Linked DNA regions of Homo sapiens: region 2 is linked to region 1. The links come from fine-mapping of genetic effects on gene expression. Tissue or cell type: whole blood. Region 1 holds a variant in brackets; the other region holds the start of a gene. All regions are shown on one strand. Distances are from middle to middle.

Region 1 (2,682 bases):
CCCTTGGACTAATGATTCCAACGTCTAGGACTTTATCCATCAGAAATAATCAAAAAGTTTATACACATGACATAATTTATAATGGCAAAAATGTTCAAACATGAGTTGTCTGAACTGCAAACATAGGGGATTAGTTAAGTAATGTTACACTTCTATGATTGAAAAGTTTAGCATTCTTCTACAAGTAGAAAAAGAATCACATGGGAATATGTTTAAGATGTTCATTAATGGAAAAAAATCTCTGTGAATAATGTGATTCCAGTTATGTAAAAACTGAGTAATAATGTGTCAAAGTACTCAATAAATATTTGTCAAATTAATAAACTAAAAAATACTGGAAGGATGTTTGCCAAAATATTATCATATCTCAAGATATGAGGGTTATGGGGAATTTTCTTTTTCTTCTTTTTGTTTCTCAATATTTTTCCTTTTTTGCAATCAGCATGTTTTACTTCCATACTATGGTAATATATGCCATAAAATATATACATTATATTTTCTAAAATCATTGCAATAAATTTAAACAAAAACAAAAGAAGTATGGCAGGAAGTGGCTATCATCTTTGCAAGAAACCACAATAACAAGGCCTTCCTTTCTTTTAGGGTCTATGGTGGCCAAGTTTTTAAGTGCCATTTTCAGGGCTGTTCATATTTTGTACAGTCTATAAATTATTTAGAAGCATCTAACTGACCACTTTGTTTCCATCTTTCACTTCTCTCTTTCTCTGGATCTCAGCCACAACTACGTTCGTGGGTCCATTACACTTTTTATCATCAACTTGCATCGATCAAGAAAGAAAATCAAGCTGGCTGGGACTCTCAGAGACAAGCTGGTTCACCAGTACCTGCTGCAGCCCTATGGGCAGGAGGGCCTAAAGTCCAAGTACGTGCCAACCTGAAAATAGCTCGGGAGCAAGTGCAGCAGGAGCTGAGGGAGGGGGAGGCTGAAGACACCAAGGTTGCTGCTAATTCTCTCAAGGGCTCAGTGGGATGGAGTAGGACAAAGAGCGGTCTGGGGTCAGGTGACTGCTGACTCCTTTTGGGAACATGTTCAAGCCCCTCCCTATCTTAGATTCCCCAGTTGTAAAGTCAAATGGTGGAGAAAGTATTTCTCAACAAGGATACTCTTGGTATTTGAGCCAGATGATTCTTCGTTATACACAACTATCACATTGTAAGCTGTTTAGCATCCTTGGCCGCTGCTCACCAAATGCCAATAGTGCCCCATGGTCATGTAGCAACCAAACATCCTGGTAGTTGAGAACCATGTCCCTCACAGCTGTAACATTCTGTAATGCTGACTCCCTTGTTGTTACCATCTATTAACCTCACAGGGCTTACAGGAAGGA[G/A]CACTAAACAAAGAGTTTAGTGCTCAAAAGGTCAGAGATAAAGAGTCTGTCCTGCCCCTAACTTTATGACTTGAGCACATCACTGCTCCATCTCAGCTTCTTCATCTGAATAATAGGACAGAGATTATATTTTGAGGGCTCTGTGACCCTTTCAAAACTCTACAAATAAACGATTCTGTGACACTCCCTGCCTCCCTCAGTCTCTATTAGAGACTTGACAACATGGATCTCTACAAACAAAACAACTCTAGGCCACAGTGAGAAGGGCCTGGTCAAGGGCAAGGCCACCCCAGCTCCCCGAGTGAGGCCTCTCAGGAAGGGTATGGGATGCTGCACAGACTGGAGGCATTCCTATTCCATTTTTAATGTTTACCAAGTTTAACAAAGCTGTAAACTTGGAGCAGGTGGCTTGCACTCCAACAGCTGCCCACAAATATTTGTGCTATAATTATTCACTGTTTCACTGCAACCTTGGTGGCTTGCATTTGGCTTCCAATTGTATTTGCAATGGGAGCAAAAAACAATCTGGGAAGTCACTTATTGAGTGACTTATTTAGCCCACGCTAGATCTTCATTTTCAGTCTCGGTTCACATGCTGGCTCTTTTTTCTGGCTACATGTACATTGCGTCTGTTTTTCTTTCTTCCCGGTCCTACCTATGTCAGCAGGACTCTATTGAGTATTTTATCCCCTTTCTCTTCACTTCTGAGTAGTTCATGATGAGTGTGCTGAATTCCTGGCCTTCATCCTAGGCAGGAGACCTGGTTCTGGTCCCTGCTTTACCACTAAATAATCATATGACCTGGGAAAATTATTTTATCCTAATCCTTTGGCCTCAGTTTCCTAATCTTCAGATTTCAAGGGTTGTTGTACATGTGGTAAGGTCCTGTGCAGCTTGAAAACTCTCATCCTGGGTGTGATTTTCTGAGGATCATGAGTGCATTTAAATCTCCTGCTGCCATTAAATAATGATCTGCAAAGCCATTTCTGACAGAAGGGCTGACTCTGCAGCAGTGATTAGGGTCCTCTGGTTAGGGTCCTCTGGAACCGAAGAGCTTAGGAGCTGAGCCTGCCCAGTGTCAGGAAGACTGTGTGCACTGTGTGGAGGGGACTGGCCAAATGCTTTAGTCTAACAAGCCAAGGTGTCCATCCCTGCTCTGTTACTTGCTGGCTGTGTGTCTTTAGGCAAGTTATGTCATCTCTGTGAGCGTCAGTTTCCTCGTCTGTGAAACCTCTTTTGTGGAGCGAAGTAAATGAGGTAATCTGTGTAAAGTTCCTGACATATAGTAAATGCTCAATAAATATCCATTGCCTTCCTTTTCCTCAACTCAGAA
Region 2 (2,682 bases), 750 kb before region 1:
TGCTTAGGTTGGTAGAGGCTTTTCAGGGAACTTCAGTTGAAGGTCATCTATTCCAGCTGTTTTCAGATTTGTTAATCCTGGTCTGGGTGGAGGTAAGAGGATACAGGTTGCTATTACAGCGTTTGCTGGGCTTTAAGACTAACCCTTGTCCATCCACTTCTGGGGAAAACCCTTGCTCTGCATTTTAGGGTTTTGCTTGTTTGATACCAAGGAGGGCCCTGGACGCTTCTGCGTTTCTGACTGCCCGCACTACATAAAGTAGTTCCCTTCATCTGCCAAGTAGAAGTCCCATTTTGTCTCAGAAAGAAGCCGAAAGTGGGGCCCAGCAATGTGACTGCAGCAAACTGTGCCTGATCCCTTTCCCGCGCTTCAGGATAGGACCTAGAGTTCAATTTGCAAGCTGTTGTGGGGTGGAAGCTCAATGAGCAGCGGCGGGTCGTGCATCACAGCGGCTTCCGGCTGTTATTCCCCATCCAGGGCTATGTGACTCTGGTTTTGACTGGGGGCCGAGATGGAAACCCGAAAGTGTCACTATGGTCCCATCTGGCACTGTAAAGGCGCACTTCCCTGCAGGAGGGCTAAGTATAGGATTGACCTCCAGGAGGGTCTGGAGGGGGGACTCTACCTGTGCAGCAGAATAGAGTGGCCAAGAAGTGGCACAGTTGGACGCAGAGCCGCCCTGACTATCCAAGCACAGCTCAGGTAGCTTCGACTTGGCCAAAGCCAGCATGTATTGACGCTCCCAAGACGCTTATTCCTCGGTTGCGGGAAGAGCAGAGCAGAGCGAGGGCGCATGTCCCTTTTGGCCCTCGGATCGGAAAAGCTGCTTGACCAGGTCACTATGTTTTTCCTTCTTGCTACTCTTTGCCCTATGGAGGTCAGAGGATGCTTCGGTGTGGCTATCCAACGCGTCACAGAGATCAGGGCTCCTCTTCGGGGAATGTCCTTCAGGGCTCTATGCTTTGACAGGAATCACCGCCTCAAGACCCCTCTGCAACTTAACCGCCCTTGGTATTGCTGCTTCAACCAGAAAAGGGCCCTGAGCGGACGAAGTGCCTGACGCTGTCAGGAGAAACAAGCGTGCTGTCGGTGGGAACTCTATCCCAGCGCGTCCCGGGTTGGCGCTGGGGCTTTCGGGTCGGAGTCGGAGCTTGAACCGCCCTCCAGAGCCTCTCAGGGAAGGACGTAAAAACGAGACCCTTTGCTCTGTACCCAGACGGTACAACGGCATGGTTTGGATTCCTCCCTCTGCTTCCTGACCCTAGAGGGTTAAATTAGGAGGGTACAACGCCACCCTTTTCTCCTCCTTCCCGCCTGCTCCCCTCCCCTTACCTTTAAAAAGTTAAAAAATGTCTGCAGTAGAAATCTCTTAAAGGGGCGGTGCCGGTGTACGAGTTCTCTTGGCAAGAGTCACGGGGAAGGCTGGCTAGGGGCGTGAGTTCGCTCCACCAGCACCAAAACACTGAAAAAAAAAATTAAAAAAAATTAAAAAAAAAAAAGAAAAAAACAAAACGAGCGAGCGAGCGAGCGAGAGAGAGAGAGAGCGGGAGAGAGAGAGAGTGTGTGTGTGTTGGGGGGGTGGTGGGAGGAAGGGAAAAAAAGGGGGGAAAAAGGCGGACAGACACACACTTTAGATAAGGACAATTAGTCACTAGCGAGACCCAGTAGGAAGAGAGGTTTAAATCAGAGGGATTGAATGAGGGTGCTTTGTGCCTTCCCTGAAGCCATGCCCTCCAGCAACTCCCGCCCCCCCGCGTGCCTAGCCCCGGGGGCTCTCTACTTGGCTCTGTTGCTCCATCTCTCCCTTTCCTCCCAGGCTGGAGACAGGAGACCCTTGCCTGTAGACAGAGCTGCAGGTTTGAAGGAAAAGACCCTGATTCTACTTGATGTGAGCACCAAGAACCCAGTCAGGACAGTCAATGAGAACTTCCTCTCTCTGCAGCTGGATCCGTCCATCATTCATGATGGCTGGCTCGATTTCCTAAGGTAAGGCAGGGGTTTCGATGGATCATTTAAAATTTTTTAGTAACACCCCCTCAAGCCCTTCCTATCCCCCATTCCAAAGGGGAAAGAAGAAAATAAGCCAAGCAGATCTCTCAAAGAGAAGAAAAGAGGTTTTCCTTCTCCTGGATTGTGTGCTGTGAGGCTGTAACTAGTGATTGAGAAAAGCAATGTTTTCTATTAAGATGCACATGTTTGCAATGCAGAAGGCATTTCAGAAACTTATCAGTTATGACTGAAAAAATGTTGTGCTTACATATATCCACAATTAGCCTTCCCGTCTACTTCTGAAAAAGAAACAAGAGGTTCAGAGCAGTTACAAAAGCGAAGAAAAGGTCTCAAACAACAAAGAGCTGAAAGGAATGGGTATGTGTGTGTGTGTGTGTGTGTGTGTGTATGTGAGACAGGAGAGTGTGTGTGTGTGAGTGTTCAAGCGGGATTGCACGAAACTGGAATTTTCCACGGAAAGATCGTTTCGTCAGTTCTCTCCCACTCTCAGAAAACGAATTTAAGCAGAGGCTTGAGTGGTGGGCAAGTTGGATCGGAGTTAAAATTTTTTATTTTATATCCTCCGCTGTCATTTCCAGACTTCAGGACTTTGTAAGGCGCTTTTTATAGACGGAATGCCCCCCTCCCCCCGCCAGTTCCTCCTCCTTAAATCTCCTGCGGTAACTGCACAGT

The links. PIP is the estimated chance that this variant, and not a neighbour inherited with it, causes the effect.
Region 2: it holds the start of HPSE2, and the variant in region 1 is fine-mapped to the expression of HPSE2 in whole blood (TOPMed, PIP above 0.99).

The regions. Positions count from the first base shown.
Region 1 is chr10:98,480,837-98,483,518 of GRCh38, reverse strand. HPSE2 (heparanase 2 (inactive)) reads left to right here. Exons shown (of 12, transcript NM_021828.5): 11 at 737-883. Among named protein-coding and RNA genes, the nearest start is that of HPS1, 35 kb to the right of the region's middle. The variant G/A (reference allele first, on the strand shown) is at 1,350.
Region 2 is chr10:99,234,817-99,237,498 of GRCh38, reverse strand. HPSE2 (heparanase 2 (inactive)) reads left to right here and starts at 1,647. Exons shown (of 12, transcript NM_021828.5): 1 at 1,647-1,986. The coding sequence starts at 1,697. RefSeq lists enhancers at 69-569, 570-1,070.